Linked DNA regions of Homo sapiens. The protein of the gene in region 3 interacts with the protein of the main gene of each other region in a biochemical or structural test. Each region holds a gene or a part of one and is shown on either strand. Other genes may lie near its edges. The genes, in order: PDLIM2, MAST4, MAP2K2, SHROOM2, PREX2, RGS12 and SIPA1L3.

Region 1 (3,983 bases), on a different chromosome or scaffold from region 3:
GCCCTACATCTCTAGAGGCAGCCTCACGGCCAGGAATGTGTGGCAAGATGGGACGAGGCAGGCTGTCCCTCAGCCCAGACTTCAGTTACCTCCCATTCAGGGCTCCAGCTGGGTTCCACTTTGGAAGAGGGTACCCAGGGAGCTGGGAGGGCGTGCCCCTCTCGCTGGTGGGGAGCTGGGCCTACTTGTCTGGAAGGAGGCAGGCGGGTCTCGCCCTTTGTTTAACTGGGGAGACCCCTGAGAAAGGGATCAGGAGTGACGCGCTCAAAGGCACCCTGGCCTCCAGTGGGCAGGGTGCACAGCTGGCCCAGTCACCGTGGGCTCTAGAACTTGAGGCAGCTCACTTTCCCTCTCTGGGTTTCAGTTTCTCCATGGGTTAAAATATAAAGGATTATTTCTATGAAATCAGTAATCAGGCCGGGCGCAGTGGCTCACACCTGTAATTTCAGCATTTTGGGAGGCCGAGTCGGGCGGATCACCTGAGGTCAGGAGTTCAAGACCAGCCTGGCCAATACGGCGAAACCCCGTCTCTACTGAAAATACAAAAATTAGCCGGGCATGCTAGTGGGCACCTGTAGTCCCAGCTACCTGGGGGGCTGAGGCAGGGAGAATTGCTTGAACCCAGGAGGTGGAGGTTGCAGTGAGCCGAGATTGCACCACTGCGCTCCAGCCTGGGTGACAGAGCGAGACTCCATCTCAAAAAACAAAAAAATCAGTAATCTTCCCCCAAATCAATCTACAAACCCGAGGCTGAGTGATATCAGTGACAAAGTCCAGGCAAAATAGAAAAAAAAAAAAAAAAAAAAAAAAAAAAAAGGGCAGGATAATGTGAGGACTCTCTAATAAAACTGAATGTTTGAACTTTCTGATGAAGTTATGTACGTTCTACTTTTTAGAACCAAACTATCCTTTCTTTTTTTGGGGTGGGTTTTGCTGTTGTTACTGTCGTTTGAGATGGAGTCTCACTCTGTCGCCCAGCCTGGAGTGCAGTGGTACAATTTTGGCTCACTGTAACCTCTGCCTCCCTGGGTCAAGCAATTCTCCTGCCTCAGCCTCCCAAGTAGCTGGTGTTACAGGCATGCGTCACTATGGCTTGGCTAAATTTTTTTTTTTTTTTTTTTAATTAGAGATGGGGTTTCACCTTGTTGATGACCAGGCTGGTCTGGAACTCCTAACTTCAAGAGATTCACCCTCCTTGGCCTCCCAAAGTGCTGGGATTACAGGCGTGAGCCACCGTGCCCGGCCTTGGTGTTTTTTTGAGACAGAATCTCGCTGTGTTGCCCAGGCTGGAAGGCAGTGGCACAATCACGGCTCACTACAACCTCCATCTCCTGGGCTCAAGCGATCCTCCCACCTCAACCTCCCAAGTAGCTGGGACTACCGGCATGCACCACCATGTGCAGCTACTTAAAAAAAAATTTTAGTAGTCATGAGGTCTTCCTATGTTGCCCAGGCTGGTCTTGAACTCTTGGGCTCAAGTGATCCTCCTGCCTTGGCTTCCCAAAGCGTTGGGATGATAGGCGTGGGTCAATGTGCCTGGCCAACTGTCCTTTCTTTTAAGGAACCATGGTTGTCATTGATGATAGTTGTTTGTCTTGAGTTTGACAAAGTTAAAAGTTGACAACCGGATGTCCAAATTTTCTGTAGCTTTTACTGGTGTTGAGAACTAGATCTGGGAACAGTTTTGGCCTCTTTTGGGGGTTGCAGGGTGCAGGGCCCCTGTGACATTCCCTCCCTCTGTTGCCTTCTCAGGTCTCAGGCTACGTCTCCAGGGCAGACCAATGGGGACAGCTCCTTGGAAGTGCTGGCGACTCGCTTCCAGGTAAGCTGGTGCCCTCCCCTGACAGCCTCAGCACCCTGATCACTGGTGCATGAAAGTGAGGCCCGAGGGCAGGGCGGCCTTGGCGGGGCAGCCCTGCCTTTCCTGACACAGTCACTCTCTCCACAGGGCTCCGTGAGGACATACACTGAGAGTCAGTCCTCCTTAAGGTCCTCCTACTCCAGCCCAACCTCCCTCAGCCCGAGGGCCGGCAGCCCCTTCTCACCACCACCCTCTAGCAGCTCCCTCACTGGAGAGGCAGCCATCAGCCGCAGGTGAGTGTGCCTGTGAGTGGGTACCCTGGTCGCCTGCGCTGCCAGCTCCAGGCTGGCTCCTCTGAGTCTCAGGAGCTCTGCTTGGGAGCCCGGGGCAGCATCCTCCCTGGGCAGGCTGGGGGTGGCCCTGGCACACACTGTCCCTTTCCCACTTTCAGCTTCCAGAGTCTGGCATGTTCCCCGGGCCTCCCCGCTGCTGACCGCCTGTCCTACTCAGGCCGCCCTGGAAGCCGACAGGTGAGGCTCCCTGGGGGAGGACAGGCTGGAGGAACAGAAGCACCTCCCGTTCCTGTGGGTTGCCAGTGCCCCGGGACTGCAGGCGGCCAGGCCCACCTGGGCAGCCATGGCCTCCTTCTCCTGGCCACAGGCATGCTCTGCTCCTGAGCCAGGGAGGCCATGCTTCTGGTCGTGGGCCACCTGTGCTGTGCCCAAGACCTGCCCAGCAGTGCCCAGTAGCCCGTCCATCTCCTGCACCCCTCCCCTCATCCCCCTCCCCTCCCATCCTGCTGACTTCCTCCCTGCCCAGTATGTTTCTCTTGGGCTGTGGCTGAAATAGTTTCGCTGCTGTTGTTGGGATGATTCCCTTTCGTCTCTGGCTGCATCTCTCGAACACATTCCTCCCCATTCCAAGACCCGGGCCTGCCTGACTCCCACCCACACCCTCCCTTCCTCCTCTGACTCAGCCCAGAGATGCCCCAGTGGGACTGCGGTTCTGCCTTGAGCGCTCTTGGCTTATTCTGTCTCCTCCTCCCCCTACCCCCGCCAGCTCCCCTGGACTCTCTTTCAGCCAGGTCCCAGTGGCCCCTGGTGACAGCCTAACCCCCTTCCTGGGTGGTATTTCTCCTCTTCAACGGTGGGGGATGGTGAGGGAGTGAGGCAGCCAACAGCCCTGGGCCGCAGCTGCTGGGGACGGCGTGGGGGGCACGTCCAGCCTTTGGGGTGATGGGGATATGGCCCAGCTGCTGAGCCCTACCTTTGGGTTGATTCTGCATTCCAGAAAGCAGAGCCTTTGGGGGTGGCCAGGGAGGGCACTAGAACCCAGAGGCTCTGGAGGAGGAAGGAGCAGGATCTTTCTGGGGGCCTTCCGAACAGCGGCTGCCTAGTGACCCGCTGCGTGCCCACCCAGAGGCCAGCCTGGCACTGTGGCCATAGAGATATATTCCATGGGTCCCCTTGTTAAGGAATTGAAGATGCAGTTGTAGAGATAAGGCAAACTTGCAAAACAATTTTGGAGCAATTAGGCACTAAGCAGTGTGGTATTAATTACAAAAGCAGGAGGCGTTCTGGGAGGGGAGGGGAAGGAAGGCTGTGTGAGGAGTATTGCTGGACGTTAGAGGTGGTGGTGAGAGGGTTTAGGGAAGGATGAGCAGGAGGCCCGACATGCTGGGAGATGGAGAAACACTGGTCCGGGCGACGGCTGATGTATTGGGGCTGGGGGATTTTTTAGGGGGAACCTTTGTTCTGAGATGAGCCAGGAATGAGCTTGTTTCAAGAGGGCTGGTCAGTGTCAGTCCTGGCTCTGTTCCGCGACACCTCTGGTGGGCTGTGGTCTCAGCAGGACCCACGTGCTCAAGGGCAAGCCTTCCCGAGCTTCCCCATCGTGTTGCCCCCAGTCCAGGAAAATGAAGGGTGTGGGAGGTACAGAGGCATGGCTCCCAAACCAGCGGCAACACCTGAGAACTTGTTGGAAATGCAACTTCCCAGGCTCCAGCCTACACCCGCTGAATTGGGCATGGGGCTTGTGGGTCACGAGCCCAGAGCTGGGTGTGGGGAGACTCACTTGGGTCGGTCCCACCTCTGCCTGACGACTTGGACCAGCCCCCCTTCCTCTCCCTGGGCCTCAGGTCAGACTAGACGCTCTGAGTTCCCTTCTCTGACCTTGATGACTC
Region 2 (4,184 bases), on a different chromosome or scaffold from region 3:
GACAGACAGACAAAAGCCCGAGTCAGCCGGCCGCCAACACCGACAGAAGGGCGGAAGGGAAGAAATGCACTGAAGCACTTTATGCTCCAGCAGAGGGCGACAAGCTCGAGGCCGGCCTTTCCTTTGTGCATAGCGAGAACCGGTTGAAAGGCGCGGAGCGGCCAGCCGCGGGGGTGGGGAAGGGCTTCCCTGAGGCCAGAGGGAAAGGGCCCGGTCCCCAGAAGCCACCGACGGAGGCAGACAAGCCCAATGGCATGAAACGGTCCCCCTCAGCCACTGGGCAGAGTTCTTTCCGATCCACGGCCCTCCCGGAAAAGTCTCTGAGCTGCTCCTCCAGCTTCCCTGAAACCAGGGCCGGAGTTAGAGAGGCCTCTGCAGCCAGCAGCGACACCTCTTCTGCCAAGGCCGCCGGGGGCATGCTGGAGCTTCCAGCCCCCAGCAACAGGGACCATAGGAAGGCTCAGCCTGCCGGGGAGGGCCGAACCCACATGACAAAGAGTGACTCCCTGCCCTCCTTCCGGGTCTCCACCCTGCCTCTGGAGTCACACCACCCCGACCCAAACACCATGGGCGGGGCCAGCCACCGGGACAGGGCTCTCTCGGTGACTGCCACCGTAGGGGAAACCAAAGGGAAGGACCCTGCCCCAGCCCAGCCTCCCCCAGCTAGGAAACAGAACGTGGGCAGAGACGTGACCAAGCCATCCCCAGCCCCAAACACTGACCGCCCCATCTCTCTTTCTAATGAGAAGGACTTTGTGGTACGGCAGAGGCGGGGGAAAGAGAGTTTGCGTAGCAGCCCTCACAAAAAGGCCTTGTAACGGGGAGGGCCCAGGGGCAGGACTGTGGAGACCCGTCCTGAACGGGCGACTGTGTCTTGACTACCTTTCAAAACCAGCACTGTGTGGGAATGTCCGCCAGGCAGAGCTCGGAGCCTCATTGAGACAGGGGAGAGAGAAAGACAAAGAGGGGACCTTCTTCCAGATGCCTTCCCAGTTGTAACCGGTAAAACTGTTACCAGATAGTGTTTGTACAAAAAAAAAAAAAAAAAAAAAAAAAAAAATTACCTTTACAGTTGAGGGTTGTTGAGGAAAATGATTTTCTTTGTAAATATATAGCATCGTGTTTGGTTTGGGATGTAGAGTCTATACCTGGCTGCTGATTGCGTCGTTTACTACAGCTTTTTTTAAATAAGATTTTTGCTTTACCATTTATCATAATGTAGTAATGAAGCAAAATGGTCAAAACTGGGTGTGTGTGAACAGAGATACACCCATATTCGTGTATATACACATCCACCTACATGTTTTGGTCTGTGGTTTAAGAGACTATTTCAAGGTTCCATTTTTATAAGCTAAAACATTCTAAGTTAAGATGGAAGAAAGCCCTAAACACAGTAGATTCTGAGTTTTTATGTGTATTTTAACCAGAGTTTCTGATAGTACTGTATCTGGCTACCTATATTTCCAGATCTAAAGCAAGAACTACTCTAAGTACTGCATTTGGAATCCTCCTCCATTAGGAATGGCCAGGACAAGTGGAGCTAGCCATTTTCATTACACGGCCATCCCAATGGACACTGGATCCCTGGTCCAACTGTCTAAAAGGCCAGTTGTTCCTTTCTGTGGATGTGGATGTCTGGCCTTCACCTGAGGTAGAGCGGGGACTATAAACACACATCAACTTTCTTTCTGTTTGCTTTCTTTTCCTTCTTTTCAAACTCTTAAACTCAGGCCTTTATGCTGTGAGTGACTAGTCCAAGAAGCACACATTTTGTAGTAGTCCTGCACCAGCCCTGCTCTTGAATAAAAAGGAAAATTACTGGCTGCACCCAAATCTTCTAGTACTTGAGTAATAAGCATCAGGCATTGGAAGAGGTTTTAAATTTGCTTTTTTGAGGAAAAGAACTGGGGGTGGATTTTGGCATCGTAGCATATCGATTAAAGAATAATCAGGACATCAGATACATTTTAATACATAGCTGGGGCCTTATGTTGTAGATGAAGCTTGCTGTTTTTAGCAAGTTCCTGGGTTTCACATTCATTTCTGCTGCATCTAGTAGCTCCACACATTTCATAACCTGATCTCTTTATTTGTATGCAAAAAATACTGTCTTAATACAGAGCAGCATTTTTGTAACAAAGAGACTCGCTGGAGCTATTTGGTGCTTGAATGTGACCATCCTTTTTACTTTTGCTAAGCCTTATTTAAATTTTGTATACCGTGGAATATGTAGAATTTGTCAAATCATTTTAGTGCTGAAGGTTTTTGATTTCTTGTTTTTGTTTCTGTTGTTGCAGTTTCTTTGGTGGCTTGTTTTGTATTGTAAGATGGCACTTGCTGATATAAATACTAAGGCACTAAGAGAAAATACAGATAAGTATTTATAAGTTGCTTGGGAACCATAGCAGAATTTTTTGTTTGGTTTTGTAAGAGAAAAAAAATTACCAATAAATAACTGATCTAGCACCCAAACTCTCTTGGGGGATGTCTTAGTATCTTCACGCTATAAAATTGTTCATCTAAGCACAGCATCATCTTATGGCCTTATGGATTGTAAATCTTCTAGTGAGGCTATAAACTCCACTCTGAAAACAAAGGCATAACTTAACCGACTGCTCAGTTGTCCTTCGTTGTAAAATGAATTGGCTTTGGGAAAAAGGAAAAAAACAAACAAAAAAAGAAAAAGAAAAAAGCCTCCTCCTTGCCCCTAATTTTTTTTTCCCATATGGTTTTAGCCATTCCCCATCACTATATTGTGAAGCTGTAAAAATATATATATATACTTTACAAGAGTTTACTAATGGATTTCAAAACTGGTCTCAACGTTTATAATACATATCTGTGTTTGGCAGTTGTCATAACCCAATCCTACATTCAGCCATCGGGACAAGTCTGTCGGGGAGGTAGTTCATGGTTTACAAGCCTTTGCTTTTTAACTGTCCAATTTCCTTTAAAGCACAACTAGCTATTTGTTTACAAATGATATTTTTATGTATATTTTGTATAGTGTATCATCATTTTTGCCAAATATGTTTTTCATTATAAATGAGTAAAGAGTACTTAAGGTTGCATTCATGTATTACATGTTTGTTGTTGTAAACCTCTCCAATCAGCTGGTAGAAATTCTCCTCATTGTGTTCTATTTGGTCAGTCTCTGTGTGATTGTAGGATGTGCTCCTTGGTAGTACTCCCAGCTGTAGATTTACCAGCTTAAAAGTTTGTTAGGATCTGTGCAATAAAGTGTTTGCAGTCTTATTTTCTCTAAGAAATTCCTTATGGACGTCATAATTGTTGTATATTGAACAAAATATTTATACTTATGCAGTTGCATAACATTGAAATAAAAATTTAGCATGAAAAGATAATGACTCGTAAGTTTTTTTCTAATATACTCATATGCATTCCACCTCCAAAAAATATTACTGATTATTACTCTGGTATTATGGAAAGGATAGGTTTTTACAGATTACTTTTTGCTGAGTGGAACAGTTTGCCTTTTTTTCTTAAAAATGTACACAAATATTCTTCAACATTAAGTCCTTTAGCTGGGCATAGTGGTGCTCACCTGTAGTCCTAGCTATTTGGGAGTCTTAAGGCAGGAAGATGGCTTCAGCTAGGAATTGGAGACCAACCTGGGCAACATAGACCCTATCTCTACAAAAACTTGAAAAGTTAGCTGGGTGTGGTGGTGTACGCCTATTGTCCCAACTACTCAGGAGGCTGAGGTAGGAGAATTACTTAAACCCATAAGTTCAAGGCTGCAGTGAACAAGCTATAATTGTGCCATTGCATTCCAGCCTGGGCAACAGAGTGAGACCCTATCTCCAAAAAAAAGAAAAAAAAAAAAGATTAAGTCCTCTTTTAACTTCTTCCTATTTTTTTCTACCAACCTTTTTCCTTGCCTGCAGAACTTACCAACTTCTACACTCACACTCACCATCTTCCCACACTCAGGGGGTCTTGATTCTCCTTTCTCTGTGACACCACCACCACCTCCTCTCATTCTCTCACGAACTTGCTCCATCAATTACCATAGTCTGCCTCAGCATTCTCTTTTTCCTCCCCAACTGTCTCTTTCCTTTCAGAAAACCCTTTCTTTACCTGGCCTTTTCCCTCTGTCCCTTCTCAGGTGACATCCTACAAGAGGAGTCTGCACTTAGTATTTTTGGGTCTTCACCCCTTTG
Region 3 (3,983 bases):
CTTTAGAGGTCTCAAAGCGTGTTGGGTTTTCTAGAACTGCCTTCGGCCTTTCTCTCCAAGCCTAGCTGGGCAGAAGTGGCCAGAGAGCGGCAACCCGGGCACCCCTGAGTCCCAGGATTTCTCCCCCGGCTCCTCCCACCCATGTGAATGAAAGCCATCCCAGGGAAGGCTGGGCTTTTGCAGGAGTCCTGGAGCAGCATGGTGGGGAAATCCAGGCTCCCCAGCCAGCCTCTCCAGGCTCCTCCAGCCCGCCCTCTCTAGCCTCAGTTCCACTTTCCTCTCTGCTGAGCACAGAAGAGACGCACGCCAGACGGTGGCAGTGGGAACTTGGCCTGTCACCCCTGCTGTCCTGGGGGTGGCCTGGCAGGTGTGTCCGGAGCCTCTGCCTCTGAAGAGGCACCTTGGGTGGCTCCCAGTGCCTGGGGTTTTGGCATTTGGGGGTTTTGGTCCCCAGGTTTGTTGCCAGGCAGCCTTGGGCAAGACATGGAATTTCTGTTTCATCATTTATGACATGGATGTGGGGCCACACCCGGGGACCAGCCTACCCATGATGACTCGTTTCCAGGCCCTCCGCAGGATGCCCGGCACAGTGGCGAGGAGACCACAGGCTGTGGGGAGGGGCCGAGGTTACCGTCACCTGGGCTGGCGTCACTGGGATCCCTCCTGCAGTCCATGCACCCCCTGGCCCCTGGTCCTACTCGGCCTGGCCTTTCTGCCCTAGGTGGCAGGGACAGGCGCAGGGCAGACGCCCAGCAGTGGAGCCGCAGGGCTTGGCGAGGGAGCCCCCTGGGGGTCTGGACGGGCACACAGCGACCCGCCGCCTCCTCCCACGCGGGGCAGCACCCGCGTCTCCTCCGCGCCCTCACCCTCCCCTTCCCTTCGTGTGCTGGGAAGAGGACGCAGGCCCAAGACGCTGGTCTCCAGCCTGGCCGCCTCCCGTGGCGCACAGACAAGCCCACCACGTAGGCTGCAGGGAGTGCGGGCCCCACAGCTGCCTGAGCCCCCGGCCGCGGCTTGGGCTGGCCCGGAGCAGAGCCTCTGCCGTGGCGACCTCAGGAGGGCCGAGTCACGCAACTGATTCGAGGATGGGACGGGAGGCGGGGGAACCCTGGGCCCTGTTCCTTCCCCACCTTGTGGGTGGGTGTTCAGACCCAAAGGCAGAACTGTCAGAAGACGCCCTGCCCTTGGCCCGTGGGTGGAGTTGGGCTCCGGCCCCTGCTTCCCGTCAGGAGGCAGACCACCCCCTCGCCGGGAGTGGGGGGACGCATCCGTGGCTTCCCGGCCACCTGCGCAGAGCCTGCACTCACTCCTTGTGTGCCCTCTAGGACGGCGGCTCCCTGGACCAGGTGCTGAAAGAGGCCAAGAGGATTCCCGAGGAGATCCTGGGGAAAGTCAGCATCGCGGTGAGTCCACCGCAGACCCACATCGCGCCCCCACCGCACTCTGCACGGACCTCTTCCACACGGCCAGGGTTCCGGGAGCCACTCACAGTGTGGTGGGGGTTAGGGTGGCCCCTGCAGAAAGAGAGTGGCCAAGGCTGTGCCCACCTGCTGTGGAGCTTGAACAAGTGACGTCCCTTTTGGGGCCTGAGGTCACCATCTGCCAAGTGAAGACGTTATAGGTCCCTCTTCACTCTTAGTATCCTCTGTTTGCCACACTGGTCCCCTCTGCCCCTCGTGGCAGGGGGATGTTGGCAGCTGGCACGTTGCAGGGGACAGGAGCTTGTTGAAAGGGAGACTCTGGGGTGGGATGTGGGACGCCAGGACCTCCAGACACACTCACCATTGCTGTTAGAAATGTCACCGGGGCCAAGGGCGTCTCTGCTGCCCGGTCTCCAGCACAGCTGCTCCGTAGAGCCGTGTGGTTTCAGCAGACCGTGCGTGTTGCTTCTTGGAGCTTGCACCTTGTCCATAGCAGGGGCCGAGTCCCGCCTGCCCATACCAGTGTTGGATTAAGACACAGGACGCATGCTGCCAGACACGCGTTTCCGAGTTGAAAGCTGCCGTCACACTGCCTGTGCTGCTTGCTTCACTTCTCGGGATGCTGCTTCCAGGGCGGGCCTGGGGGAAACATCGTCCTTCCCAGGCACCCTTAGCCCGTCCCATCTGGGGGCCCTTAGCACAGTCCCTGGGACCCCAGATGCTGCCTTTCAGGCTGATGTGGGCAAACTCGGCAGCCCAGCCTACTCCCGGGCCATGGGCCACCATCTCAGCTTCCCTGGGGCTAAGCCGTGTGCTCTGAATCAAAGGCAGTAGTGGCATCGGCGGCACTGCGGCCATGGGAACCGGGGTTGACTTGCACACGCCAGCACAGGGCTGTCAGCACTGTCTCGTCTCTGGCCTCGCTTGCTCCACCCCAGCGAGCTCCTCACAGCCTGAAATGGTTCCTGCCGCAGCTCCCTCGCTCCAGCTCTGACTGCTCAGCTCTGACCCCCGGGCTCGGTCAGGAGCTAAGCCCTGGTGGCCTTGTCCCGTGACTCCCTCCGCGCTCCCCTGCAGGTTCTCCGGGGCTTGGCGTACCTCCGAGAGAAGCACCAGATCATGCACCGAGGTAAGGCCCAGCCCGCCCTCCCCAGAGCCCCGGGGGCCGGCAGGCAACTGTTGGGCGCCCCTCACCCGCAGCCTGCCGCCTCCAGATGTGAAGCCCTCCAACATCCTCGTGAACTCTAGAGGGGAGATCAAGCTGTGTGACTTCGGGGTGAGCGGCCAGCTCATCGACTCCATGGCCAACTCCTTCGTGGGCACGCGCTCCTACATGGCTGTGAGTCCCCGCTGGCTCTCCCCTCCAGCTCTCCTCCCTGCTGCTCTCCCCCAAGCTCTCCCCACCCAGCTCTGCCAGCCAGCTCTCCCCCTCAGCTCTCACCCCCATGTCTCCTGCGCAGCTGTCCCTCCCAGTTCTCCTGCGCAGCTCTCCCCGCCTCCCACGAGGCTTTCCCAACTATTTCGTGGGCACACACTCCTACATGGCTGTTAGCACCCCCGGGACAGTCCCACCCCAGCTGCACCCTCCCCTTCATCAGCTCTCCCCACTTGCCACAAGGCACGTCTAAAGCTGGTGCCTCCTGGGAGCCTGCTTTTCGGATTCCCCTTGCTCTTTATTTTTTATTTGTTAATTTACTAATCTTTTGTAGACACGGGGTCTCGCTGTATTGCCCAGGCTGCTCATGAACTCCTGGACTCAAGTGACCTTCTTTCCTCAGCCTCCCAAAGTGCTGGGATTCCACTAGCAGTGAGCCTGAGCCACCACGCCCGGCCAGATCTCCCCTTCCTGTTGGAATTCTCTCTTAGGTTTTTGTCTCTAGCAGTGCCTACCAGGTTTCTTTCTTTTTTTTTTTTTTTTTTTTTTTTTTGAGACAGAGTCTTGCTCTGTCACCCAGGCTGGAGTGCAATGGCACAATCTTGGCTCATTGCAACCTCCGCCTCCCACCCGGGAGCAATTCTCCTGCCTCAGCCTTCCAAGCAGCTGGGGCTACAGGCATGTGCCACCACAGCTGGGTAATTTGGTTTTTGTTTTTGTTGTTGTTGTTGTTTTTTGAGACACAGTCTCACACTCTCACCCAGGCTGGAGTGCAGTGGCGCCATCTCCGCTCACTGCAAGCTCCGCCTCCCGGATTCACACCATTCTCCTGCCTCAGCCTCCCGAGTAGCTGGGACTACAGGCGCTCGCCACCACGCCCGGCTAATTTTTTGTGTTTTTAGTAGAGACAGGGTTTCACCATGTCAGCCAGGATGGTCTCAATCTGACCTTGTGATCCGCCCGCCTCGGCCTCCCAAAGTGCTGGGATTACAGGCGTGAGCCACCGTGCCCGGCAGCCTTGGCTAACTTTTAAAAAAATGTTTTTAGTAGAGATGGGGTCTCGCCATATTGGCTAGCCTAGTCTTAACTCCTGGGCTTCCACCTCAACCTCCCAAAGTGCTGGGATTACAGGCATGGGCCACTGCACCCGGCCCTTAGTTAATTTCTGGACCAAGGAATTGGAATCT
Region 4 (4,628 bases), on a different chromosome or scaffold from region 3:
GCAGAAATCAGCAGAAACGTACTGAGGAGTGATGAATCCTGTCGCCATCTGTCAGCGGAGGTTCTGCTGGGCTTCATGCATGCACCCCAAATTCCAAGAATGCTACTCCTCTGAAGTTGGTATCCCTTTAGCTTCAAACTAGACCCAGAGAGTAGTCAGTCCTGATTCTGAACAGCCACTGTGGATGCCCATAAAACACAGCACTTGGGAGTTCCTGCTTCAATTTCCTTTCTCCAGCTACAAAAAATGCAGATGAAGCAAGTATTTGTTTGAGTTTGACTATGTAAATAAAGCCTATTCTCAGGGCCAACGCGTGGGAGGAAAACAGCTCTCCATGCAAACACTGGCAATGCCAGAGGCCTCTAAACACACCACCCTAAAGGCCAGTCTATTCAAAAAGAAACAGAAGTTTTAAGAGCAAGAATCCTTTAAGAGCAAAGGTGATATATGGTTAATCTAACAAAAGAGATTCAAAACCAGGCTAATTTTGCCCCCAGAGGACATTTGGCAATGTCTGGAGACATTTTTGTCATCACACCTGGAGAGAGGTGACAGTAGCATCAAGCAGGTAGAGGCTGGGGAGGCTGCTGAGCATCCTCCAAAGCACAGGGCAGCCCCACAGCAAAGAGATTCAGCTCACAAAGTCCCCAATGCCAAGGCTGGCAAACCCTCACCTAACCGATGTGACGAAGGTATTCAATATGGCATTGCAGGAGATCCCAGACCCAAGCAGATGGCACTGACTGAAGGGGAGCAGCAGGCTTGAACACTGGGGCCAGAGTCTGATTCTTAGGGCCTTTCCCAGGACTCAACAGTTTGTGACCTCAGGATACACCATTTGCCCTGCCTGGGCCACAGCTGTTTCATCTATAAAATGGGCTGATAAAATTCCATCTGAAGACCAGGACCGAACCAGCCTTGTTCTTGACACCCCTCCCAGTTCTACTACACGCACTCCCATGAGGCTTTCAAATGATACCCTCATTATCATAAAGAGAAGGTGCGCTCTTACCTTAATGCAAGCTATCCCCAAATCAGAGTCTGCTAAATAGCAAGTGAGTTGTACAGTATTCCAGGGCTCTAATATGTAACTATTTAATTACAAGTGGAAAAAAAAAAACGATTAGAAGAGCTATTTTTTAATGAGCCCCAGTGACTTTTCAGTAGCTTTTGGGAGAGGAAGATTCAAAGCTTGGATTAATCCACATTCTGAGCCAAGCGCAGTGGCTCATGCCTGTAATGCCAGGACTTTGGGAGGCAGAGGAGTTCGAGACCAGCCTGGGCAAAATGGTGAAACTCCCCGTTTCTACAAAAAATTTTAAAAAATTAACCAGGCATGGTGGCGCACATCTGTGGTCCCAGCTACTCAGGAGGCTGACAGAACAAGACCCTGTCTCAAAAAAAAAAAAGAAGAAAGAAAGAAAGAAAAGAAAAGAAATAAAAGAAAAAAAAAAGAGGAGTGTTCTGGCTGGGCAGAGTATACACACTTTATGACTGTCCACCATGTTTCCAAAGAAGCCAGTGTGATAAAAGATTACACATTGGTCAAATTTATAACAATGGCAACCTCTTTCCTGAGTTCAACAAAAATTTAGTGCAAAGCTAAACAAGGCTTCTCCAAATCCCTCCACAAAGTTTTGTAATCATAAAAGCGACAGAAAATATAGAATGGAAGACGCTGGTGTCTCATTTGCTATTTGAACAACAAAGCCATCCCACTTCCCAAACTGATTACCAGTGCGGCGGGTTAGGAATCACTTAATTTCTTCCTGCTGTGGAGAGGCAGGAAAGCCGAGAAAACCAGTAAATTATCTTCAAACGCTTCTAGTCGCCAAGAATCTTTACATTTTAAAAGGAACTTCGTCCACACGAAAGGTCCGACTCAACCCTTCCCAGAGAAAATGACCACTACACACTTTTAACTAGAACACAGGGTGACTGGACTGTTGTTTATGTGTTTGCTTTTACAAGTTCATACAGGTTCAACTGGTAAGTTTCCAGATGGATTTTGTTTTGAGACAATAAAATTCAATGTTCTAAAGCAAACCACACACACACACACAACATTCCTGATGAGATACATCTGGAATTTCTTTATTATTATTAGAACTCGGGTCCTGCTCTTAGGAAGCAGGCTTTCAGGTTTCTCTAAGTTTGCGCAGGTATCCAGTGCGCAGTGGATCTGGGACTGGAAGCCGAAAGTCAGTAAACATTGATGGGCTGAAGGGAATCGAGAAGTTGCGCTGGCGACAGCTGCTACTCTGGATTTCGTAGTGATCACAGGCACGGGTCCAAGGGGTGCCGAACCAGGGACCCCAGAGAGGCAAACATAGGTGGGGACGGCTCGGGGACACGTTCCTTCGCTGGCCTCCAGGCAGCCCCGCAGGTGCAGGCCGCCACTGGCGGGCCCGGGAGCGCCAGAGGACCCGGCCAGGCCCCTGCCCGGAGGAGGGAGGGGGAGGGGAAAGGGACTCCGGGCAGGAGCCATTTAAACTCTGCGAGGCGCGGGGAACCGCCAGGATCACACGCCCACGCCGGTCCCGGCGCCCAGGCCCGGCAGGTGACCCCAGCAGACGCGCGCGCCAGACCCGGGGGCGCGAGCCTACCGCCCCTCCCGCGCCCCTACCTCGACGCGCCCCGCAGGGCGGCCAGCTCCCGGCTGTCAGCGCCCGCGCCCCGCGGCCGCCTTACCTTGGTGATGACCAGCGGCTCGCCGTGCTCGCGGCCGCCCTTCAGGGTGAAGCCCCACGGGGCGCCGCCGCTCAGCTGCACCTCCACCAGGCGCCCGCCGTCCGCCGCCCGCGTCTCGGCCTCGGCCAGGCGCTCGGGCCGCGCGCGGGGCTCGGCGCCCTCCATGGCGCGACCGCTCAGCGTCCCTGGCCCGCGCCCATGCACTCCGGGCAGTCCCGGCCGTGGGATCGCAAGGGAGGCTCCGAGCGCCGCAGAACTTGCGCCGTAACTTGGAAAGAAAGTGCCGGCCCGGCGGCGGAGGGAGCCCGGAGGGCTGGCGGGGAGGGGGCGGGGCCGGGGCCGGGGCCGGGGCCGGGGCTGGCGGGGAGGGGGCGGGGCCGACGGGGGGCGGGGCGGGCGCGTTCGGGAGCTCGTACCGCGGGGCCGGTCACGGGGAGCGCGTCCAGAGGTCCAGCCCGCGGCCCGAAGGGTGAGGGACGGGGTCAGGTGCGCGCTCAGGGGCCCACGCGGCCGCTCGTACCGGGGAGAGCTGGAGAGGGGCGCGCCCCGGTTCTCTCGCCCGGTGGAGGGGAGCGGGCCGGGAGGGGCGCTCAGGCGCGCGCGCCGTTCAGCGGGTTCGGGGTCGGGGTCGAGGAGCGCGCGCCCCGGGGCTGGCGGAGCCAGCGCGGGCGAGGACGGGGGCGGAGGCCCCGGCGCCAGGTCGGGCCTTTCCTCCCGCGCCAGAGCTCTGCAGTGCTTCGAAGCTCTGGGCGCCCCCGCCCGCCGGTTGGAGGCCAGGACCGGGCAGGTGAGGCGGCAGGTGAGATGGGCGCGGGGTGGCGTGGCGGGAGTCTCCGGCCTCCTCCGTCTCGGGGCGCGCGGCCCGCCGGCGCCCACACTTTGTTCTCGCGCACCGCGGGCTGCCGCGCAGGTGAGAGCGGAAGCGCCGCGGGAGGCCCTGGTGCCCGCGCTGTGGCCGCTGCCCCGGGGCAGAGGGACCGCCCGTCCCGCGCGGCCCTGCGCGCACTCACACTCTGGACTTAGAGAGCCGGGAAGGGCGCCCCCCAGCAGCCTGAGCCGGGCGCGGGTCCGGCCTCTGGAGGGGCTTGGAAGGCGGGCGCAGAAGGACCGTGCCCCGTTTCCACGAGGGCCTTCCCACCTTCCCGCAGAGGCCTCCCACAGCCACCGCGCAGAAAGCCGTTGCGTCTAGATGCTGTCCCCACTCGCCTAGGATTGGACCACAAGGTCTTCAAGTTTCCCAGGTTTACATCCCCGAAAAGGGGAGGTGGAGGTCTGGGATTGGTGAAAGTTTGCGGACAACATGTGTGCCACCTCTTCCTGCTCGGTTTCAGTTTCCATGAAACTCTGGTCTAAAGTACCTGCATGGATAGGTATTTACATGCTTTGCAAAAAAGCTGTTTTCGTTGCTGTTTCTATACGTAGCTGAAGGCTGGTGAACACCTCTTTTCTCTAAGCAGCTCCATCCAGGCCCTTTTCAGAGGTGACGATGCTGGAGTACGCATCCAGGACAGGCCGGGAGAGCACTGGACAGAGAGTCAAGGGTCCCCGGGTCTGGGTTCTGCCACTGTCAAGCTGGGACAAGAAATCTCAGCTCTGGTCTGTTTCTTCAGAGGTCAAGTGAGAGGGGTGCATTCTGTGGAGGTGTCTCATGCAGCCGATTAAATTCAGAGTCGCAGCTCCACTGGGCACCTGTCATGGCGCTGGGCACGTGGTGACTGCCCCATAATTAACTTCTAACTACAGTCTCTGAATGCCTTTAGTTAGAAGAATGAGGCGATTTTTTCTTTTTCAAAGATTAAACGAAGGCTTAAGGAATGTGCCTCTCAGAATCAAGTCGAGTGTATCTTCACTGTGGTGATGGTCACAGGAGCTGCCAAGTTGATTAAGCTAAATTGCACAGAACTAAATGCACGTGAAACGGGAAATCTGAAAAGGCT
Region 5 (3,983 bases), on a different chromosome or scaffold from region 3:
TTAAATCATGCTACACAGGAAAAGATCTACTTCAACTAACAAAATAATACTTCAGTATTTTAAATGCAAAGGTATTAGTTTCAAAACACAGAGTCATTTACTCTCAATTGAACACTTCCAAATCAATAAATGCTAATTTTGTCTATAAAATGTACAAGCCCAAAGGACTGAAAATAGTGTGTTTTGTTAAATTAATTAACATGACCCTTAGGCTTTGTTTACCCATTCATTTTTTTGGCTCTCAAAGTTAGTATCAAGGTCAATTTCATTTCATTCTGAATGTAATGATCCCAAAATTTAAATTAATAGACTCAGAACCAATGTCATTTCAACGTCATATATATTATAGTATCATAAAAAGTTTACCTAATTTTAAATTGATTTAAAATTTGCTGCAAGAAGAGTGGCCAATGAATGCACAATGAACCCAAGCCACCAGAAGAATGTGTTTTAAAGAGACAGAAAACAGTATGAGACTTCAGATTTGCGAACTGATAAAATAAAGCTTATACTATAAATTCAATATTATATATCCAATATAAGTAAAACTAGCACAGAAATTATCTCCCCATTTTCTCTCTTTAAATAGGAATGGAAATACATGTAAAATTCTAATCTTCTCAAATTTTTCATACTTTAATATCACATTAAATTTTGTAATATTTGGAATTAATATTAGAAAAAATTATAGGAGATAATAGAATGCTTAAAAAGTATTGACTATGAATTTTTAGTTCACAATTATTTTTGAGTCAGGCTCTAAGTTAAAATCCAAACTTTCTATGCATGACCTTCCCTTTTAGGTTGGGGGGCGGTGGGAGTTGTCCATGCTCAGAACCTGGAAGAAGTTAGCAGGTTTTAGCAGTATTTGAAGGTGCACTGGTTATAGAGGAGCATGTAGCATTAAGGTAAACACATCCTAAAACCTCAAGGCCATTTAATGCCCAATGTCACATGGAGGTACATATGGCATTGAAAAAATTGTCATTATTCATTCATCCATTAGGTATGTTTTTTACTCTTACCACTGTGTTGGAATTATAATAAAGTTGTATGAGATGTACTATCTAAAACTGTTATTTTTGATGAGGAGGAACATGATACAAAATAGTTTTTCAGATTGCAACACTGTTGAGTTACCTCAAAATGTGCATCCAGAGTTGTAAAATGTCCAGGAAACACTATAATTTTCATATAATTAAAGCATTTACATATTTCCATTCACCGTTTTTTAATACAAGATGTATAATTTAATGACAACACATGCCGCATAACTCCAAATTTACTTACAAATCATCGTAATATTACAATAGTTCTTATATTGATAAGGAAAAGTAGCATAATGCATTAAGAAGGCAGACTTCCTGGGTTCAAATTTTGGTTCTACCCCTTGTCAATCATGTGACTTTGTGCAAGTCACTGGGTTATTCTTTGCTTTGGTTCCTCAACTCTAAAAATGGGCGCGATAAAAAGAGTACCATGTCACGTCATTATTATGAGGATTAAGTGAAGCAATAACAACAGAATACAGGCAAAGCATTTGGAGGTATTACTGGGCATGTAGTAATCCCTTAATAAGTGTTAGCTACAATTTTTATTACGATCAGAAGTTAGAGTGACTGATGTTAATATAAACCATTACTAATTTTTGAGCATTTAGTAAGTACCAAGCATGATAGACGACACACTTATGTTTAACCCTAAAAATAATATGAAGCACATTCTATTATGAAGAAAGTAGATCCTTAAAAATATAAAATATGTTAGCTTATAAATACCACAATATAGCTGATAATTTGCCCCATGAAATATGGCAAAGTACAACTGAAATCATTTTAATGACCCTTGCATGCCTCTAATGAGGATTACTGCTTCCAGGATGGTGATGAGAAAACAGTCATGACAATATGAAAGGACTTGCTAGCTAATCAGCTGTGTTCCTTTATTAGTCCTACAAATGTTAAATCCTTGAAGGTTATTTTTGTAAAGATATCTTTATTAAATTCAAAATGTTCAACTTTTTCTTGAAAACTCTGATGTTAGGTTCCTTGTTTTTCATTGTATATGGACTTCTCACAAAAGTCTCTAGAGCTTCTGTGCCAAATAACAATTATTATTACCTTACCTAGTAGTATACACATATTGCCTACACATGTAACATGGTATTTTTGTTATTCAATACATAATGGTTAATGATAAAGGTTTTAATAATAGTTTGAAAACCATGATCAAATTTCATAAATTAAAATTTAATAATGGGCCGGGAGCAGCGGCTCACGCCTGTAATCCTAGCACTTTGGGAGGCTGAGGTGGGTGGATCACTTGATGTCAGGAGTTCAAGACCAGCCTGGCCAACATGGTGAAAACACGTCTCTACTAAAAATACAAAAATTAGCTGAGCATGGTGGTGCACACCTGTAGTCCCAGCTCCTGGGAGGCTGAGGCAAGAGAATGGCTTGAACCCAGGAGGTGGAGGTTGCAGTGAGCCAAGATTGCACCACCGCACTCCAGTCTGGGTAACAGAGTGAGACTCAGTTTCAAAAAATAAAAAAAAAATTAATAATAGTTTGCACATAATTTAGATATGAAAAGCATTTCACATACTAAATTAGTGTAAACCCATATAATTATCACAATCATGAGTGTTTTGTTTGAAAATTATGGATTTAAAATAAATATTACTGTATTTACTATGCTAAAAACAATGTTATTGCATCAATGTAGAAATGATAAACATTACATATACTTTAGAATAAGGATAGAATACACCTTGTGCATCCATAAATTACAAGTCCCCTAATGGTCCTTTTAAAGTACAAATAAAGCCTTATTTTCATATCTTATACATATATCTTAACAGAAAAATTCTCATGATGGTGTATTCTTTGAAGAGTCTGACCTCTCATATGAGAGCCTTCATAAAATTAAGAGTTTTAGGTATCTAACTTAAAGGTTTAGTTTTAAAATAGGCTTACAGTCCCCTTCTTCATCCTGGTTCCCCTCCCTGATCCCCAGGGCACTTCCCTGATCCCCAGGGCCATTATGGCACAGCACCCAGTATTCATGGCCCAAGGAAGCCATGCCCATTGCAGACACCAAAAATAGCATTGATTTGCTAGAGCTGTCCACAAGAATAAAGGATGCCCAAAGGCAGCTAGAAGAAAGTGAGTCCTGCTGGAGGCCTTAGTCAGCTTTCTTCTCCTCTAATAAGAAATAAGCCCTTAGGAGAAAGAGTAAAGCATGCTTTTCCACCTTTTACACATTAATGACTTTCTCTCTTGCAAATGGGGGACTGAAAATGTATAGCACACAGTCTATATTGTCCTTAACATTTCTCATGATGATTTGCAAGATGTCGCCAGGTTTCTTCAATAATGGCCTTCTTCAAGAGGAACTCTCCATTATTACATGTGTCCACTTGGGAAAGATGAAAACAAGCATAATAAAACCATTTTAATGAATGGGAGAGGAGGCATGGTGGTTAATTTTTAAATCTCTAATATTTTTTTCTTTATGTCCCAGGGATGGATTTTACTCTAAAAGTGAATACTTAATGTCAATACAGAGAGACATCAGTTCGTGAAGCTGAACTGTCTGATTGAACTTCTATCCATTTCCAGCATAAATATCAAAGTATAAACTGATCACTACTTGTTTGCAATGGGAAGAAAGATTTACAGAAAAAAAAAAAAAAAAAAGCATTGATGTATCTTCAGTGGAGAATGTTTAGCCAGCATGTAGTTTGTCTAGTCCAGCATTCAGGAGCTTCTGCCTGCCTGGTTTCTTGGGAGTTCTTTTCATTCTTCTCCAGCTGGGGGAGGTGGCTCGCACAGCTTGTACAGCCTAGAAAAGGCATGGTAAAGTTTGACAGTGACTTAGTGTATTACCATTACATGAGGTGTCTTTATTGGTAGAACAAATACATTGATGATAATTTCTTGTTTCGTGAGTCATGATCGGATTGTCTATTTCACTAAAAATAA
Region 6 (3,983 bases), on a different chromosome or scaffold from region 3:
CGCAGGACCAACGAGTCTGCTCCACTGTCGCCTTCACACAGGTTAACTTGGAAGACAAGGGAGCTCTAAGCTGGTGGAAGCTATCAAGACCCACGACAACAGATATGACAAGATCTGCCATCGCTGGGAAAGCTAGCTCTGGGACCAAAATCTGTGGCTCACGTTGCCAAGCTGGAAAAGGCAAAGGCCACAGAACCTGCCAATAAACTGGGTGAAATGAACACTGTTGAGTTTTCTGTACATCAAAATAACACAAATTCTCCTTCAATAAAAAAGGGGGCATTCTCTCTCTCTCTCTCTCTCTCTCTCTCTCTCTCTCACACACACACACACACACACACTACTGACAAAAATATAAACTAGAAAACCTCTTTGGTGAGCAATTTGGCAAACTTTAAAATGCACATACACTTTTAAAAACAGCAATTCCACATCTAGGAACCTACCCAAAAGAAAACTCACATATATACAAAGATAGAACTTTAAGAATTTTTACTGCAATCCAGCTTATTATTAAATATAGAAACAGTCTAAGGTTGCCATCAACTGGGGACTGATTCAGTAAGAAATGGCACAGGCATATGACATAATACCACGTGGCCACTACAATGAAGAAGAGTTTTTAAAATTGATATATAACTATGTACATGAGAAATTTGTTTTAGAAAAAAGTAACTCACAGCAGTATGTCACATGTATTTTCAATAAAGGGAAGGAAAAGGAAGAGAATATCCAAGAGCCTGTGCAAACAGAGTAAGTCCATGAAAGGAAGCGAACTCTGAACTGCAGCTCCCCGCGCGGAGCGGGGCAGAGGCAGCAGCAGCATCTAAGGCTCTGACTCTTACAGTGCTGTTCGCATTGTGTCTGTGATTGTACCTTTGGGTATGTCGTCATGAACAAATGGTGGAGAATGAGATGATGAGCACCCACCAACACACTGCACCGCAAGAAATAAAACTGCACCAACACGAGCGAGGCGCCACGGCACCCCTCCCGGGAGAGGCCCCCCAGCCTGGTGCTTGCTCGTCCTCCCGCTCGCCCCTGGCTTGTCCTCCCACCGAGGGGCACGCGCCACCCTGGACAGCAGACTGCGCTGCTCACGGGCTTGAGGCTTCTGTATTTTGCCTTTTTTATGAGCGCGATTTTCAGATGTACTTCAGGTGATGCAGGTACCACTATCTCACTCAGATGTAGCTCTCGGGTACTCCAGTACACCCATAAGGTATTTCTCCATTCTCTGTTAATGGTCTTATCTCAGTAAGCAACAGTTGAGAAGGAACTCACTCCTGCAAATCCAACCTTCTGCGGGCAGCAGTCCTCAAGTGCTGTGGTCTCAGGACTCCTGGGAGTACCTACAAACGACTGAGCACCTCAGCGAGTCTTTATTTTTGTGGGTTTCAGCTACTGATGTTTCTCATACCAGAAATTAAACTGAGGAATTTAAAAATATGTATTCATTCATTTCAAAATTACACCAATCAATCCTTTACATATCACAAATAACATATTTTCATTTTTAAAATTTCCAAAATCCATTGTATGGAAATTTTAAGAATTTGGGTGCTGCTACTTAACCAGGTATTTTAATTAATTAATTTAATTAATTAATATAACTTTGAGTCAGTTTGCAGAGACACAGAATTAAACACGCTTGCCTTAAATGAAACACAAGGCAATCATTTTTGATGACAGAAGCATTTCGAGATCCTGGGTTCTCTTTCACATCAGCCCCTTTTGTTAGTCACAGGCCTGAATGCTTATCTCCATGAGAACCAGCTTGTGCTGGCTACAGACATTAGGCAGAGACAAAGAGCAAACTACACAAAAGGGAAAGCAGTCCACTTCCAAACATCATCTCACCCACTTCAAGAATTTCAGACCCTCAGCGAGTCTACAAGTAACTCAGCTCCCCTTCCTTGCTCCTCCCCAGAGGAGGGAGAAGCTGACAAGGATGAGCTGGCACAAGGTCACCACGTGGCTCGGTGTGCAGGGGGTTAGAGCTTTCCATCTCACCAAGGAGACGTAGAAATGCCGAGCAACAAGGGGTCTGGCTCGCTGGTCCCCAGGCTTTCACAGGAGCAAGTGGCCACTGAGGGCGGAAACCCGGGCTGAGCCTGCAGACAGCAGGATGGAGGCGGCAGTGACAAAAGCGTTGGCAAAGGACAACAATGGAGAATCTGGTGGCAGTTAGGACACAGAACTATTGGCCTTAGAGACCAACTTGTGACTAGATGCAGTATTATATTTCTTCTAATAGTCAGCTTATTTTGCATACAGATTAAGAAAGGCTGGTGCCAGTAATTTCAAAGGGAACGTTTAACATTCATAGAACTAGTAATAACTGTGTAGAGGGAATGCTGAAGATTGTTCTAGGGCTAAGGGCGAGTGCCTAAGCCAAGGACACCGTCAGCAGGGGCCCCTGCCCAGGCCTGGGCCTCAGAGCGCGCTGGACACCACATGCCTGCAGTCCACTGGGGGGAGGAGCTGACGTGGCTGTCCAGGCCGGAGCTGCTCCACAGCCACAGAAAACCCTGCCCTGGGGTGCAGGCAAGCCAAGGCGGACTCAAAAGCAGAAGCTGGGAGTGAGATGCCCTTGGGGGTGCTGAAGAAGGGTGCATACAGACGCTGGGTAGCCTAACGGGGCACTGTGCCAGACACCAAGGCATTTCTTCTCAGCGCCAAACCCACCCTGCCGTGCCCAGCTTCTGATCCTGGCACTGGGCCTTGAAGACCACATGGCTCCTGCCCAGGGGCTCAATGTTCAGCAATGGGCACAGGCACTGCCTCCCAGATGGAGTGGGGTGGACTGGCATGTGAGGGTCCCACATCGTTTTTCCTGGGGACTGGGGACAGCCACCAATCCTCACCTGGAGCTGCTTCACTCTCTCACAGCTGCGATGGACTCACAGTCCTGTCAGATAAGGCCCCTACTCTGGGTATCTAAGCCTCCCACGCCCACTTTTCTAGACTCAGCCCCTTTCCACACTGATGACCTTAGCCTTTCTTTTCTCTTTCAGCAGCTAACCTTCTTTTCCTTTGTTAACGATTCTGTATACTGAATTTTTCCTGTTCAAATTACTGCTGCGTTTCCTGTCTCCTGGCTGGATCCTGACTGATTCCACCTGAGTTTGTGCAAAGTAAAGCCCTGAAGTCCCCGTCACTAAGAATCCGGAGTCACGTGAAGCTCGCTGCCTGACACCATGGCACCCTCCAGGGGCCTCCTCTGCTCTCTCCCTCCCTGTGCCAACTCTGCTGCTTCTTCTAACTTCCAGGCACTTCCTGCATCCCTGCTGGCCCCTTCTCTCAGCACAGGCCAGCGTCCAGGTGGGGCCCTGATCGCTGCGGACGGTCACGGCCACCTTCGAAACTCTGCAGACCTGTCCACGGCGACGTCCGGACCCATCTTGTGGCCGCCTCATGACCCCTGGAAGCTTCTGCTGCTCTAACTGGGGAGGCTATGGGATCAGACTCACCTAACTACACAGGGAGGCCCACTTGGCAAAGTAAACAGCAACACTTAAACCTCAAGAGATTACAGCAGGAACCCATAAAACACAACACGTTACTACCTGTTTATTTTTAGATAGTGTATCACGCCACATTATGAAGGCCACTCCAAATCCCACACGGAGCGCCAGGGCTGTCTTGGTCCCAGCACTCACATGCCCTGTGACTGTGAGCAAGTCACCTGACAGCCAAACCTCAATCGCCTGGCCTGATGGCCTCAGGATTCCTATCAAGGTAAGGATGCACTCTGCAAAGCAGTGACCGCCACACCGTTATTTCCAACCCTGAGGACATGCTAGCTCCCCTTCTGCTCTGCTCCAGTGTGGGTGGGAACAGCCAGGACCCTCATCTTCACTGCAAAGAAGCCCAAGGCTGGCATCACAACCCCACCTATTCCCCCATGTCACCCGCCCCAAGGAGGAGTCCATTCACTGGTGGGATGGGGACGACAGCATTATCTGTCTCTCAGGTCCGCT
Region 7 (4,491 bases), about 34 Mb from region 3:
CTCTCATTCTAATAGCTAAAAACAAACACTTTATTTTAAAGGAAATGATTATTGAATTCTTTTATTAAAATGTAAATACATTTAATTTACATTTTACAAGTTACTAAGACTATGTTTGAAATATATCAGTAAAATATATTTTACAGCAAAAAAATGAGGCACCAATCACTGCACATTCTAAATTCCACTTTTGATTTACCACCTAACAACTGCAATGTCTGAAACACAGACTCACATTTAACTCTTAGATCATTCATTCTACACTGACTGCTAAAAAGCCACGTGCTGCTTTTTTTTTTTTTTTTTTAAGCCACTGCTTTACTTCTTCAGGTTAGCAAAATGCTTAGGTAAATTTGTTGGCCATCACAAATGTGATTGAGGCCACCGGTTTCTATCATCAAATGAAATCACAATGACAGGTTTCTGACAATAAACTCAACCTAAGGGGAGCGCTAATAAATTCCCTTCCCAGCCTCTTCTTGGGTGTGTGGTATGTGTGCTGCCTCCTGAAATGCCCAGGATGGCCACCCTCCCACACGGGATATTCTAAGCCGCTGACACCATCTAACTTTTCTGAAAGAAATTAACAACTCAGCCGATCTTTACCAGGCTAAAATCACAGAACTGGGTCCCCTGAAAGCCAGGCTTTCATGCCACATCCACAGCCACTGCTGTCTAGCCAAGTCTATAACATCTTCTTGCCCTTATTAATACATATGTTACATAGGTTTACGTATGTTAATCCCTAATGACTTGACTTAACCTTGTCACAGCCAGGCGCGGTGGTTCATGCCCTACAATCCCAGCACTTTGGGAGGCCAAAATGGGTAGATCACCTGAGGTCAGGAGTTCAAGACCAGCCTGGCCAACATGGTGAAAACCCCATCTCTACTAAAAAAAAAAAAACTAACCACGTGTGGTGGCGGGCACCTGTAATCCCAGCTACTCAGGAGGCTGAGGCAGGAGAATTGCTTGAACCCGGGAGACGGAGGCTTCAGTGAGCTGAGATTGTGCCACTGCACTCCAGCCTGGGCTATGGAGCAAGACTCCGTCTCAAGCTGAGGGGAACTTTCAGTGCCCATCAGATGGGAGACCAATATGGGCCAATGAAATGGTGTTTCTATGAAATGGCAGCTTCGTCCTTCTTGCTAGTTGACTGGATATGGGAAGGCTGGGGAAGAAGAGCAACTCCCAGGTTTCTGGCTTAGGCAACCAGGTCAATGCTGGCACATTTGCCAAGATGGTGACTACTGGTTCCAGGAGGAGAAGGAGTTCAGGTTGGACATGCTGAGTTTATGGTGCCCAAGAAACAGCCACTTCTTTGAGCCACAGCATCAAAGAAGCACAGGCTCCACATCTGGAGCTGGAGTGCAGGGGACTCAGTGGCTTTGGGACACAAAGGCAAAAGCTGGCAGCACCAGGACAATAATTAAAGCACTGGAGTGAACATACTGGCTCTGTGGGGAGGGGTGTGTGAGCAGGGGACTGCTGATGGCAGGTCAGACCCATTTCTTCTTAGGCCTTTCTACTATAGTGTGTTCCATAATTTAATCTTTGGTAAGTAAAATTTGGGAGGGAGGGGGAAGATAAAAAAACACTAACTTTGTGCTCACTCTGCCATGTAGGTACAAACAGAAGCAAAAAGGGCCTATTAAAAAAAAAAACAGCAAGATACATTTAATCATTTAATAAGCACTTACTGTGTGCCGGGCCTTGTGCAAAGCACTAAACATGAATTATCTCCTGGAACCATCCAAACAATCCTGGCACAAAAGTCCTATGACTACCATTCCACAGATGGGACACTGAGGATGGGAGCAAATGTGTGGGGGAGCTCAGGGCTGTCATGTCACAGCCCACAGTCAGGCAGTCTCTGGGCCAGATGGAGAATATTGAAGAACAATTATAATACATAAGAGCTGCTACTTAGTGAGAGATGGCGCTGGACTAGAAATACAATCTCAGCAAATCCTTACAACCCTTTGAGAGTGATCTTGTTATTATCCCATTTTGTAAATGAGGAACCTGAGGTAGTAGGAAGGGAAGTCAACTGGACCAGTTCTGAATCTGGCCCTCGGGGGTGACCAATACTACGGCCAGAGCCCCACCCTCAGAGGGTCTCTGGGCCACTAGGAAAACGCTGAATAAATGGTACCATTTACTGAGCGTTATATGCCAGCTGCTGTGCTAAGCACTTTACACATGGTATTCTCACTGCATCCTGAAAACAACTCGACGAAGTGGTTGCTATTTAAATCCCCATTTTATAGATAGGGAAACCAAGGCACAGAGAGGTGAAGCCAGTTGCCCAAAGTCACACAGCTGGTAAATGTTCAAATTTGAACCTGGGGTCTCTCTGCCTTCCAAACCAACGCTCTTAACAAAATAATCTCGGTTAACAGCAGCTAGCCTGCATTGGGTGCTAACTAAGGACTCACCTCTTTACATGCACACGCTCAACTAATCCTCACCCTATGCAATCGATAACATCTTCACCTCATTTTTCGGAGAGCTAACAATAACCCAAATACGTAGTAAGTGCCTCCTATGTGCCAAATGTTTTATTATATTATCTCAACAGAGTCTCCGCCAAGATGCTCTCCTACTCCGTTTTACTGCAGGGGAAATTGAGGTTCGGCGCGGTTTTCCCAGATCGCGGCTCCCGAGTGGCACAGCCGGGACGCGAATCCACCGCTCCCCGCCTCCAAGCTCTTCACCACAGCGCCGGGGTGCACGCCTGGAAAGTTGAGCCATGCGGGCACGAGTCCGGCTGGGTCCGGAGGGCGCGAGTCCCGGCGCCGCCGCCCCCCACGGCCAGTACCCACACCCGGCCGTCCGCCCGCGCTGACCCTCGGGGTCCGGGCAGCCACCGATTCCCCGCCACCCTTGCGCGAGGCCGATCCTGCACCCGGAGCCACGTACCTGGACGCCCCGGCTGCCCGCCTCGCGGGCCCCACGATCGCGGCGTCCAGCTCCGCGCCGCTCGCTGGAGACGCCGCCAGCTCCGGTGGCCCGAGTGACTTCCAGGCTGCCCACTTCCAAGCCGCTTCGCGCGAGTCCTCCTGGGAACTGTAGTTTCGCCCTAGCCGGCCGCGAACTCAAAAAGAGAATGGCGCGCGGGGGCTGCCGGGAGCCGTAGGCGCACCGCCGCGCTGCCTCCTAGGAACGGTAGTCCGCTGGTCGCCTTCGTGCAGCTCCAGTCTGTAGAGCACTTCCGCAGCCCCGAGGGGCGTGAGGGAGGGAGGTGTGTCTCCTGCAGACTACAGCTCGAGAGCCGCGCTCTTCGCCCCGCCGGGGCGGTTTCTCCTTTCTCCTGGCCCCGTCTACCTCCTCCCTTCATTCGGCGGAACCTCTCCCTCACTCTCTGCCAGGCTCGAGTCACTTACCCCTAGGACGCTAGCCCGGGGGAAACGGGGGAAGCGGAGCAGTGCGCTAGACCCCCAGCGGAGGGGGCGGTGGAGGAGGGCGTAGATGCACGCCCGCGCACGCGCGGTCGTCGGCAGACCCCGGCCTAAATTGCCGCGGGACCCCGCGGAGAGGATTTTTTTTTTTTTTCTTTCGAGAGCGCGCGCGCGTTCTCGCGCCGGGCGCGCGCCCATGCGCACGCGCGTTCAGACCCCTGGCCTCGGGAAGTCCGCCGGCTGCGGGGTTGGGGGCCAACCGTTCTGTGGGCGGAGTCCTCTCGCAACATCCGCCAGGTAGCTTCTTAGTTGCTGCCCCTAGCTCTAGGAGCTCCTGAGTGCACACGCCGTACCCGTCCCTTGTCGGGAATCCTGTCGCAGGTAACAGGCGCAGCCAATGCTTTGAGATAGAGACGCCCTGCCTTCCCTGCCACGTGCAGGAGGCCCGAGGGTGAGGGGCCCCAGGTGTAGTCGCCTGTCCCCGGCGTAGGCGGCTCCAGAGCTCTGCCTTCGACGGGAGCCACAAGACCCAGGGGCTGCCTAGGGGCCTTGTTATCTTGCATTCTTTTGTTGATCGCACATTCCTGAGGGTAACTAGTGTTTGTAGAGTACCTACACCTTGGGAAATTTTGTCCAAATTTAATCCACCTGGTGACATAACCAAGCAGCGGAATACCCCGCAACACACACTCCTTTTTTAAGGTATATTGCCACTCCTCCATAAGAGTTACCGAGGGAATTGACTGGAATTGCAAGGTCCTCTGGTGGAGAAGCCGGAGTCAATACCCTTTCCGCCTCAGCCTGCCTTCTAGGAAGATGTTCACTAACACTTGAAGCTGGGAAGCATATGTTTCTTCCTGGGAGAGCACATTTTTCCACTCATTCAACAAAAATGGATTAACCACCTATTCCATGTCAGGTTGGGTGATTATGGAGACACAAGAGAAATCCAGACAGACTGGACTCCTACCTTCAGGGAGTTTTCAGTCCAGTAGGGATATCAGGCCACCACCAGACTACAACAATGTAGAGCAATACTAGCTAAGAGAAATATACCCTGCACTTTGAGCCACCGAGGCAGGAGGATCAC

What was found.
Region 1: the proteins of MAP2K2 (region 3) and PDLIM2 interact in a test that uses a peptide from one of them, tested with the Homo sapiens proteins (one large-scale study listed by IntAct).
Region 2: the proteins of MAP2K2 (region 3) and MAST4 interact in a test that uses a peptide from one of them, tested with the Homo sapiens proteins (one large-scale study listed by IntAct).
Region 4: the proteins of MAP2K2 (region 3) and SHROOM2 interact in a test that uses a peptide from one of them, tested with the Homo sapiens proteins (one large-scale study listed by IntAct).
Region 5: the proteins of MAP2K2 (region 3) and PREX2 interact in a test that uses a peptide from one of them, tested with the Homo sapiens proteins (one large-scale study listed by IntAct).
Region 6: the proteins of MAP2K2 (region 3) and RGS12 interact in a test that uses a peptide from one of them, tested with the Homo sapiens proteins (one large-scale study listed by IntAct).
Region 7: the proteins of MAP2K2 (region 3) and SIPA1L3 interact in a test that uses a peptide from one of them, tested with the Homo sapiens proteins (one large-scale study listed by IntAct).

Annotation. Positions count from the first base shown.
Region 1 is NC_000008.11:22,583,069-22,587,051, forward strand, and holds part of PDLIM2 (PDZ and LIM domain protein 2), read left to right. Parts: intron 1-1,752; coding exon 1,753-1,822; intron 1,823-1,948; coding exon 1,949-2,094; intron 2,095-2,252; coding exon 2,253-2,331; intron 2,332-3,983. UniProt on the Homo sapiens protein: Probable adapter protein located at the actin cytoskeleton that promotes cell attachment. Necessary for the migratory capacity of epithelial cells. Overexpression enhances cell adhesion to collagen and fibronectin and suppresses anchorage independent growth.
Region 2 is NC_000005.10:67,166,234-67,170,417, forward strand, and holds the end of MAST4 (microtubule-associated serine/threonine-protein kinase 4), read left to right. Parts: coding exon 1-818; 3' UTR 819-3,360; downstream 3,361-4,184.
Region 3 is NC_000019.10:4,099,796-4,103,778, reverse strand, and holds part of MAP2K2 (dual specificity mitogen-activated protein kinase kinase 2), read left to right. Parts: intron 1-572; exon of another isoform or gene 573-962; intron 963-1,325; coding exon 1,326-1,403; intron 1,404-2,498; coding exon 2,499-2,550; intron 2,551-2,635; coding exon 2,636-2,760; intron 2,761-3,983. UniProt on the Homo sapiens protein: Catalyzes the concomitant phosphorylation of a threonine and a tyrosine residue in a Thr-Glu-Tyr sequence located in MAP kinases. Activates the ERK1 and ERK2 MAP kinases.
Region 4 is NC_000023.11:9,784,774-9,789,401, reverse strand, and holds the start of SHROOM2 (protein Shroom2), read right to left. Parts: upstream 2,974-4,628; 5' UTR 2,857-2,973; coding exon 2,692-2,856; intron 1-2,691. UniProt on the Homo sapiens protein: May be involved in endothelial cell morphology changes during cell spreading. In the retinal pigment epithelium, may regulate the biogenesis of melanosomes and promote their association with the apical cell surface by inducing gamma-tubulin redistribution.
Region 5 is NC_000008.11:68,231,193-68,235,175, reverse strand, and holds part of PREX2 (phosphatidylinositol 3,4,5-trisphosphate-dependent Rac exchanger 2 protein), read right to left. Parts: intron 3,844-3,983; coding exon 3,798-3,843; 3' UTR 1-3,797. UniProt on the Homo sapiens protein: Functions as a RAC1 guanine nucleotide exchange factor (GEF), activating Rac proteins by exchanging bound GDP for free GTP.
Region 6 is NC_000004.12:3,320,209-3,324,191, reverse strand, and holds part of RGS12 (regulator of G-protein signaling 12), read right to left. Parts: intron 268-3,983; exon of another isoform or gene 1-267. UniProt on the Homo sapiens protein: Regulates G protein-coupled receptor signaling cascades. Inhibits signal transduction by increasing the GTPase activity of G protein alpha subunits, thereby driving them into their inactive GDP-bound form.
Region 7 is NC_000019.10:37,905,790-37,910,280, reverse strand, and holds the start of SIPA1L3 (signal-induced proliferation-associated 1-like protein 3), read right to left. Parts: upstream 3,074-4,491; 5' UTR 2,923-3,073; intron 1-2,922. Other genes in the region: WDR87 (WD repeat-containing protein 87), read left to right, coding at 3,598-3,698. UniProt on the Homo sapiens protein: Plays a critical role in epithelial cell morphogenesis, polarity, adhesion and cytoskeletal organization in the lens.